2 separate regions of the Homo sapiens genome follow, and region 1 is linked to region 2. Evidence: fine-mapped expression QTL. A gene starts in region 2. The other region holds a variant in brackets. All regions are shown on one strand. Distances are between the middles of the regions.

Region 1 (4,384 bases), 65 kb before region 2:
TTGTTTTGCTCCCTCTGTTGCCCAGGCTGGAGCGCAGTTGCGCGATCTTGGCTCACTGCAACCTCTGCCTCCTGGGTTCAAGCGATTCTCCTGCTTCAGCCTTCCAAGTAGCTTGGATTACAGGTGCGCACTACCATGCCTGGCTAATTTTTGTATTTTTGGTAGAGATGGGGTTTCGCCATGTTGTCCAGGCTGGTCTTGAACTCCTGTCCTCATGTGATCTGCCTGCCTCAGCCTCCCAAAGTGCTGGGATTACAGACGTGAGCCACCACACCTGGGCTTTCTTTTGCTTTTTGTTAGTGATTTTGCTGTGTAAAATGGCTCCCTTGGCCGTGTGTGGTGGCTCACAGCTTTAATTTCAGTGCTGGGGGGGTGCTGAGGCGGGAGTATTGCTTGAACCCAGGAGTTTGAGATCAGCCTGGGCAACATAGTGAGACCCCATCTCTACCAAAACAAAAAAAAAAAATTTAGCCAGGTGTGCTGGCACCTGCTTGTAGTCCCAGCTACTTGGTAACTGAAGTGGGAGGATTGCTTGAGACCAGGAGTTTGAAGCTGCTGTGAGCTGATTGCATCACTGCACTCTAGCCTGGGTGACAGAGCAAGACCTTATCTCTAAAAATAAATAAATAAATAAATAAATAAATAAATAAATAAATAAATAAATAACAAATAAAATGATCCCTAACCACAGTGCCGAAGTGCTGTTTGCCGTTCCTAAGCGCGAGAGTGCTATGATGGGGAAAATGCATGCATCCATTCAGGCATGAGTTACAGCTGTTGGTTGTGAGTTCAATGTAAACAAATCAACAGTATATATGCAATAAGGTGTCTTTAAACAGAAACACACATAAAACAAAGTTACGTACTGATCAACTGATGAGAATGTGACCAGAGCTCGCAGGAAACTGACCCTGTATTTCCCCTAGGAGCGATGGTTCAGTATTCACTAATTCAGTGTCTGCAAAAACTGCAGAGGCCCCCAACCTTTCTGGCGCCAGGGACAGGTTTCATGGAAGACAACTTTTCCACAAATGGGAGCTGTGGAGGATGGTTTCGGGATGACCCAAGTGTATTACATTTATTGTGCCCTTTATTTTTATTATTATTACATTGTAATATATAGTGAAATAATTATACAAGTCAGCATCATGTAGAATCAGTGGGAGCCCTGAGCTTGTTTTCCTGCAACTAGATGGTCCCATCTGGGGGTGATGGGAGACAGTGACAGATCATCAGGCATTAGATTCTCATAAAGAGTGCACAACCTAATCCCTCGCATCCGCAGTTCACAATAGGGTTCATGCTCCCGTGAGAATCGAATGCTGCAGCTGATCTGACAGGAGGCCGAGCTCAGGTGGTAATACGAGCGATGGGGAGTGGCTGTAAATACAGATGAAGCTTTGGCTTGCTTGCCTACCACTCACTGTCTGCTGGGTGGCCTGGTTCCCAACAGGCCATGGATTGGTACCAGTCTGTGGCCCAGGGACTGGGGACCCCTGTCATAGAACATGACTACTGTAAATGATAAGAATCAGCTGTAATTGGCTTGGGGTCGTGGAGCCACTCCAGGAAGGGGTTTCAGTGTTGTCAGAGTGAGATGAGGTGGTGCCTCGCCAAGGCATCTTCAGCTGGCTTTGGGCTCACTTGGCTTGGAAAGTTGACCCCCATCTCCACCCTTTCATTTTCTGTTGCAGGCTCTTTTCTCATTTCTGGAGGGTTTGATAGGACTGTGGCTATTTGGGATGTAGCAGAAGGCTACCGGAAGCTCTCTTTGAAGGTACATGTGGCCAGCATGAGATTGAGGATCTGAACTTCCCTCCCGAGTCCTTCCTGTGCTCAATGCTGGTTGCTGGGGACACAGCTGTGAGTGACACAGGCCTTGATGCCTCTGTGGGCTGATGAAGGACAGACAGGAAGCCAGCAAACACACCACCGACTGTGAGGAGTGAAATGGAGAAACCACAACAGGGTGACATGATGGGGACAGAGGCGGGGGACCCATCCACATTGCATGGGCAGAGCTTCCTGGAGAAGGAGGTGTTTGAGCTGAGAACAGAAAGGACTACATAAGTGGGGATCTTGAAGAAGAAGGGCAGTCCAGGCAGATGGAACAGCTGATGCAAAAACCCTGAGGTGGGAGTGTCTAAGAACAGCAGAAGTTACTGTGCAGGCCTGGGCACTGTGGCTCACTCCTGTAATCCCAGTACTTTGGGAGGCTGAGGTGGGCGGATCACCTGAGGTCAGGAGTTTGAGACCAGCCTGGCCAACATGGTGAAACCCCCGTCTCTACTAAAAATACAAAAATCAGCCGGGTGTGGTGGTGCAAACCTGTAGTCCCAGCTACTTGGGAGGCTGAGGTGGGAGGATCGCTTGAACCCGGGAGGCGGAGGTTGCACTGGGCCAAGATTGTGCCACTGCACTCCAGCCTGGGCGATAGACTGAGATTCTGTCTCTAACAAAACAAAACAAAACAAAAAACAGAAATTACCTTGAAGAGAGACGCATGCCCTAGTGAGGCATGCACAGAAAGCTTGGGGTTCCAAAATGGGGATGTCAACTGAATGCTCTGGGCTACAAGTGAGAGGATGAGAGGAGCCCCAACTCAGAGTGGCTCTATGATACGGGGATGTGTTATCCAACACAGCAAGAACCCACAATTGCCTCATGCTGTGCCCCTGTTCCCCCAAGGGGCCCCACACCCCAGGATTTCTGCATACTCCCTGGTTTCAC[G/A]ATCTCACTGTCACCTTTGGCTGTGAATGCGTGCATCCCTGATTCTTGGTCTTTCTGTTCCCAGGGACACAAAGTAGACATGTGTCCTTGAGCAGCCCATATTCAGGTCCCTGGGGCTGGTCTATCTGAGCTGTCTTCTCCTAGGACTTGGGGAGACAAAGCGAGTTTCCTCACAGCAAATAAACGGATTAAAATGGAATGTTAAACCTCTCTGTGCTTAAAGTCCCTCTGTCATCTAGGCACAGTGGCTCATGCCTGTAATCCCAGCACTTTGGGAGGCTGAGGCTGGAGGATCATTGGAGGTCAGGAGTTCGAGACCAGCCTGGCCAACATAGTGAAACACCATCTCTACTAAAAATACAAAAATTAGCCAGGTGTGGTCATGCCCACCTGTAGTCCCAGCTACTTGGGAGGCTGAGGCATAAGAATCTCTAGAGCCTGGGAGGCAGAGGCTGCAGTGAGCTGAGATTGCACCACTGGACTCCAGCCTGGGTGACAGAGCCGGTTGTTCTATTCTCTCTCCTCTTCTCTCCTCTTTCTCTGTGCTCCCATCCTCAAATTCCTGTCCTTTAATTACACTAAGCGGTTTAACCTTCCCTCTGATTCCTTTTTCTCTAACCACACTATGGCCTCACTTTCTGCCTCTTTCCATACGGGGAAGGCCAAAGAAGGACAGAGATGCTGGCATAAAGCCCAGACATCATTCAGTGTCTGAGGCAGCAATGGCAGCTATCTGCTCTGAGCTGTTTTTTTTGTTTGTTTTTTTTTGAGACGGGAGTCTCGCTCTGTCGCCCAGGCTAGAGTGCAGTGGCATGATCTTGGCTCACTGCAAGTTCCGCCTCCTGGGTTCACACCATTCTCCTACCTCAGCCTCCTGAGTAGCTGGGACTACAGGTGCCCACCACCATGCCCGGCTAATTTTTTTTTTTTAAATTTTTATTTTTTAGTAGAGATGGTGTTTCACCATGTTAGCCAGGCTGGTCTCGATCTCCTGACCTCGTGATCTATCCGCCTCGGCCTCCCAAAGTGCTGGCATTACAGGCATGGAGCACCGCGCCCGGCCTGCTCTGAGCTCCTATGTACCCAAAGAAAACACCCCACTCCTTCTCTGCTTAAGCCACAGTGGATCGAGTTTGCAGTTATTGGAAGCGAAAAGCCCCCTCACTTACAGGGCCTCTGAGGGGTATTTCCTAGAACAAAGAATGCAAATGAAAACCTGAGACCAGCTGGGAATATAATATTTCTCCCCCAATCTTGCTAAACACCCGAGTACTATTTTAAAAAACCATACACAGTGGCACACACATTTGTAGTCCCAGCTACTCGGGAGGCTGAGGCAGGAGAATCACTTGAGCCCAGGAGGTTGAGGCTGCAGTGAGCTATGATTGAGCTGCTACACTCCAGCCTGGGGGACAGAGTAAGACCCTGTGTCAAATAAAAATAACTAAATAAATAAATATAGAATGGGTAGGGCGCAGTGGCTCATGCCTGTAATCCCAGCACTTTGTGAGGCTGAGGCAGGTGGATCACTTGAGGTCAGGAGTTCGAGACCAGCCTGGCCAACATGGTGAAACTCCATCTCTATTAAAAATACAAACATTAGGTGGGGTGTGGTGGCTCACGCCTGTAATCCCAGCACTTTGGGAGGCCGAGG
Region 2 (4,384 bases):
TCTTTCTGCACCTGCCTGGCACTGTAGCTGGTTCTAGGCATGGTCTCAATCCTATGACCCACTCATGGTGTGAGCTTCCCCTTCCCTGGAGGACAGTTCCTGGAGAGGGTGTGGGCCAAGAAAAAGCTCTAACCAGCACCCTGGCCAAATCCCTGGAACCAGCCCTTCCTTCCAGCAGACCGTCCATCAGGCAGGGGCATCCTAGGCCAAGAAGCTCCCAGGGCCAGGTCAGGACCAGGCTCTGGGAGACAGCATTCTAAGGGGAGGGGGTGAGATGGCGGAGTGACCTGGCCAGGGGCTGTGTTCAGGGGCAACTCTGGATGTGAAGAGCTGCTAATGTGGGGGTGGGAGAGGACGAGGTGAAGACCCTGGGTCTGCCCTACTGAGCCCCCAAACTTTCTCCATCTCCAGGGGTCTGAGGGTGGGAAGGCAGTGAAGACACAAGTGGCTCTCACTGGCAGGGGACCGGGAAGACTGGCTGGCGGTAAGGTGAGAACAGTCGAGGCCCCAGTCACTCACCCCCCAAACCACTTCTCCTGTCCCTCCCTGGAGGGGCTCAGAGGCACTCTGTGTAGACAAAGAAACAAGTCAGTATCCATGACTTGGGACAGAGAGTGGAAAAATACCACTGCCATTCCCATGACCTCTGAGCTCTCTGCCTGCCCAGAAACCCCTATGTGGGGGCAGGACATGGACCCATTCTCAGGTGGGGACTTTGGAGTCCAGGGCCTCCAGACCAGGCGAGTGTCCAGTGCCCACCAGGATCCCAGCTCAGGGAGCAGCTGGCCTTCTGCAGGCTGGGTCTGCCCACTGCTGCCCCCAATTGCTGGCTAACCCGCCCCCTCTCCTGGGTCCTGCTGCCAAACCCTGCAGTCATTGCCTGCTCTGAACCTCCGTCCCTTCTGCGCAGGCTGCGCTTGCTCACTCTGCTCATAGGCCCTCCTGCTTTCCAAGAATAAAGTCACTGCACTGCGTGGCACCTGGACCCTGCACACAGTAGGTACTCAGACTGACCCACAGTACAGAACTTGGGGAGCTCAGCCTGCCGCAGCCTGACCAGCCCCTACACTGGTCAAGTTCCTGCGCTAATCGCAGGACTGCAGTCATGGCCATTTCACAGATGAGGAAACTGAGGGTAACTGCCTTGCAAAAGCCCCGCAGCAAAATCGAGTCAGGAGGAAGAGTCCAGCGGTGGAGGGGACCCAAAACTCCCCCAGGTGCAGGCGGCCGGGAGGTGGGAACACGGAGCTTTGGCACCCTGGGCCAGCAGCCCCTGACCTCCCCGCGGTCATAGCGCTCTCTGAGGCCAGACTGCAGGTTCCCCAGGCAGACCCGTCCGAGCGCCCGGAGAGGGGACGCCCCTCGTTCGGAGCGGCTGCGCCCCTCATTCGGCCTCCGCCCGGCGCCCGCCCGCCTGGGTCCCGCTCACCGATGATGATGGTGCAGGCGCTCAGCAGCCCGATCTCCTTCTTGAGCGCCACCCGCTCCGAGGCGCCGGGGACGGTCCCTGGGACTGGGGAGGGCGAGGGCGCAGGCCTGGGGTTCCCGCGCCCGCTCGGCTGCTGCGTGTGGCCGGCCATGTCGCTGTCCCGCCGCGTCCCCGCTCCCTGCGCTGCCCCGTCTGTCCGGCCGGCCGCCCGTCGGTCCGTCGGTCCGTGAGCTCACGGCCCTCGCAGCCGGGACAGCGCCCACAGGCGGGCGCATGCGCTGGCTCCGGGCCCGGGACTGGGGGCCCCGGGCGGCGGGGGCCCGGGAGGGGCGGAAGGAGGGCCGGCCCACAGCCCCCTCCCCCACCTCCCTTAAAGGGAACGCCCCCTCCCCCAGTCCCGGCCTGGGAAGGAAGGAGAGGACTTGGGGCAGATCTAGGAAGGACTTCCCAGTTGGGCGAAGGAAGGGACCCTCCAGTTGCCTGAGTTACATCCATTCTTGGGGCCGGGTTGGGGAGCAGAGCTCCGAGACAAGACAATCCCTGCTCTCAGGGAGGCCGAGGGGGACGGCAAGAATAACAGCTGGCCGCGTGTGGGGATGCAGTGTGTGCTCCCTTTAGTACTCTATGCCTGCACGATGTGTGTGTGTGTGTGTGTGTGTGTGTGTGTGTGTGTGTGTGTGTAGGAGACAGCTCCCAGGGTGAGTCCATTCTACAGGTGGAAGTTGAAGCCCAGAGATCAGTAGCGATCGCCGAGCAAGTGCAGGGCTGAGACCAAACCCTTTCTCGTGCCTCCTGAGGCTCCCAGGCGGACAACCTCAGGAGGGGTGGGGGTTGAGGTCTGGAACTCCTCTGAGGGGTCTGGGTGTCCTATGCACCCTGGATCAAAGGCCTGAGGGTCGAGGTGAAGATCCCGGGGGCTCTCATCCTCATCACGGGGACCCAAGACCTGTGACGAGTCCTGGACACGGCTCGCCCACCCTACCAGGCTCTGGGCCACCTCTGGCCTGAGATCTTCACTACAGGCTCCTCGTCCCAGGTCAGAGTGAGGGCTCAGCGGACTAGAACTCGGGTCTCTGGTGCAGGTCCCGCGCGATCCAGCCCGGCTCAAGAAGGCCAGGCGACCTGGAATGCCCGGGAGACACGGAGAAGGAGGCTGTGGTCGCGGGAGAGGGTCGGGAGTGCGGGGATCCGAGGGAGGCTGCCTCCTCCCGGAAGCCGTCCGGACTGTGCAGCCGAGGCCGGCGGAAAAGATCCAGGGGGGCCGCGTCGGGGCCACCGGGGCGGCGGGCGGGGCGAGCCTGGCACTGTGCGGCCGGCGGCGGAACAGCCTTTGTTTCTTCCTGGCGGCCGCCGCGACGCGCCGTCCCCTGCATGTGGATGAGGCCTCGCCGGGCGCCCCGTCCTTCCCCCCAGTGGCGGCCTCCGGGTTTGCTGGGGCCCTGCCAGGGGTCCGACGGCTGCAGGGTGGACCGGGGTGGGACGGGGCGGGGGCGGGTCCCTGGCAGGGGCGGGTCCCTGGCAGCGGCAGGGCCTGGAGGTGGGAGCGGGGCGGGGCCGGCGTTTGCAGGCACACAGGAGCTTCGAAGTTGGGGGCGGGGACTTGGGGTAGGAGTAGGAGCGGGAGGATCCAGGGTGGACGTGCTGGTGGGACGCCGAGGGGGAGGCCACCCGGCGAAGCTGCATCCCTCTCGCTTCTGTCGTCGGAGACCGGCATTCTTGGCGCCCTCCACCTCCAGCCCCAGAGACCATTCAGAGGCCGACTCTCTTAAAGGAGCCTCGCGCAGGGTAGGGGCAGCCCTGGCTCCGGAGACCCCTGATTGTCGCGGGTGTTAGGGGCCAGAGGCCTCGACCTTCTGGTTTGACTCTCCCCAGCCCCCCAGTTGCCCTCGCAATTCTAGGGTCTGCTGGGAGAGGGTCTAGCCAGGGCTGGTGCAATCAGGGGCAGCTTGCCAAGGGGCAGGGGCTGGCGCAAGCCTCGCAGCTCTGAAGCCTGTGGTTTTCGAGGGTGTCTCTCTGGGACCTGGAATGTGGAGTATGCGTTTGTGGGGGAAAGGTCGGCCTAGGGCTTTGCACAGGATGGAGTTTGTATGTTGTCAGCCAGGCCCCATAGCTCAGGAGGTCCTTTTCGTGGAATTGAACTAGAACCTGCAAATTTCAATGGGAACAAAAGGTTAGTAGGATTGGTTTACCATCCAAAAACCAATCAGCATGATTCTCCACATTAATAGAGAGAAAAAAGGAAAACCTCAACAGATGCAAAAAACAGTCATCCGTGATGTAAACAAACAACTCTTAGCAAATAGAAACAGAAGAGAACCTCCTTAATCTGATAAAAGTATCTACCTAAAAACAAATCTCCAAGAAACCAAGAAACAAACAAAAACCCTACAGCTGACATCATGTTTAGTGGTGAAAGTGTGAATGCTTTTCTACTGAGATTGAAAATGAGAAGGGATGTTGGCACTTGTCAATATTCTATACAATAGTGTACTGGAGGTCCTAGCCAGAGCAATAAGACAAGAAAAATAAGTAAAAAGGTATGAAGATAGTAAAGGGAAAGATAAAGCTGCCATTCACATATGATGTGATTCAGTATGTAGAAAAAAAATTACAGGTTAATTTAAGGAAGATAAGTTCATTTAGCAAAGTCGCTAGACAGAAGTTTAATATACAGAAACTAATTGTATTCTATATACTAGAAATAATTAGAAAATGAAATTAATAATAGCATAAAATCAAATACCTAAAAATAATTCTAGTGAATGATGTGTACAATTTTTATGCAAGAAACTACAAAACATTTCTGAGAGAAATTGTTAAAGACATAAGCTAATGGAGGGATATACCATGTTCATGGATTGGAATTTAAAATGTTGGTCTCCACATTGATTTATAGAATTGATAAATACATCCAATGTAATTTTGATCAAAGCACCAGACAACTTTGTTGTTGAT

What was found. PIP is the estimated chance that this variant, and not a neighbour inherited with it, causes the effect.
Region 1: its variant is the best candidate, but not a certain one, in a credible set for the expression of SLC7A10 in whole blood (TOPMed, PIP 0.53).

Annotation. Positions count from the first base shown.
Region 1 is chr19:33,158,720-33,163,103 of GRCh38, forward strand. WDR88 (WD repeat domain 88) reads left to right here. Exons shown (of 11, transcript NM_173479.4): 8 at 1,695-1,777. It overlaps LOC124904691 (a long non-coding RNA gene), which reads right to left. Exons shown (of 2, transcript XR_007067228.1): 2 at 1,052-1,936. Among named protein-coding and RNA genes, the nearest start is that of TRT-AGT1-3, 16 kb to the right of the region's middle. RefSeq lists enhancers at 1,784-2,193, 2,537-2,706 and a cis regulatory region at 2,622. The variant G/A (reference allele first, on the strand shown) is at 2,731.
Region 2 is chr19:33,224,124-33,228,507 of GRCh38, forward strand. It overlaps SLC7A10 (solute carrier family 7 member 10), which reads right to left and starts at 1,727. Exons shown (of 11, transcript NM_019849.3): 1 at 1,430-1,727. The coding sequence starts at 1,580.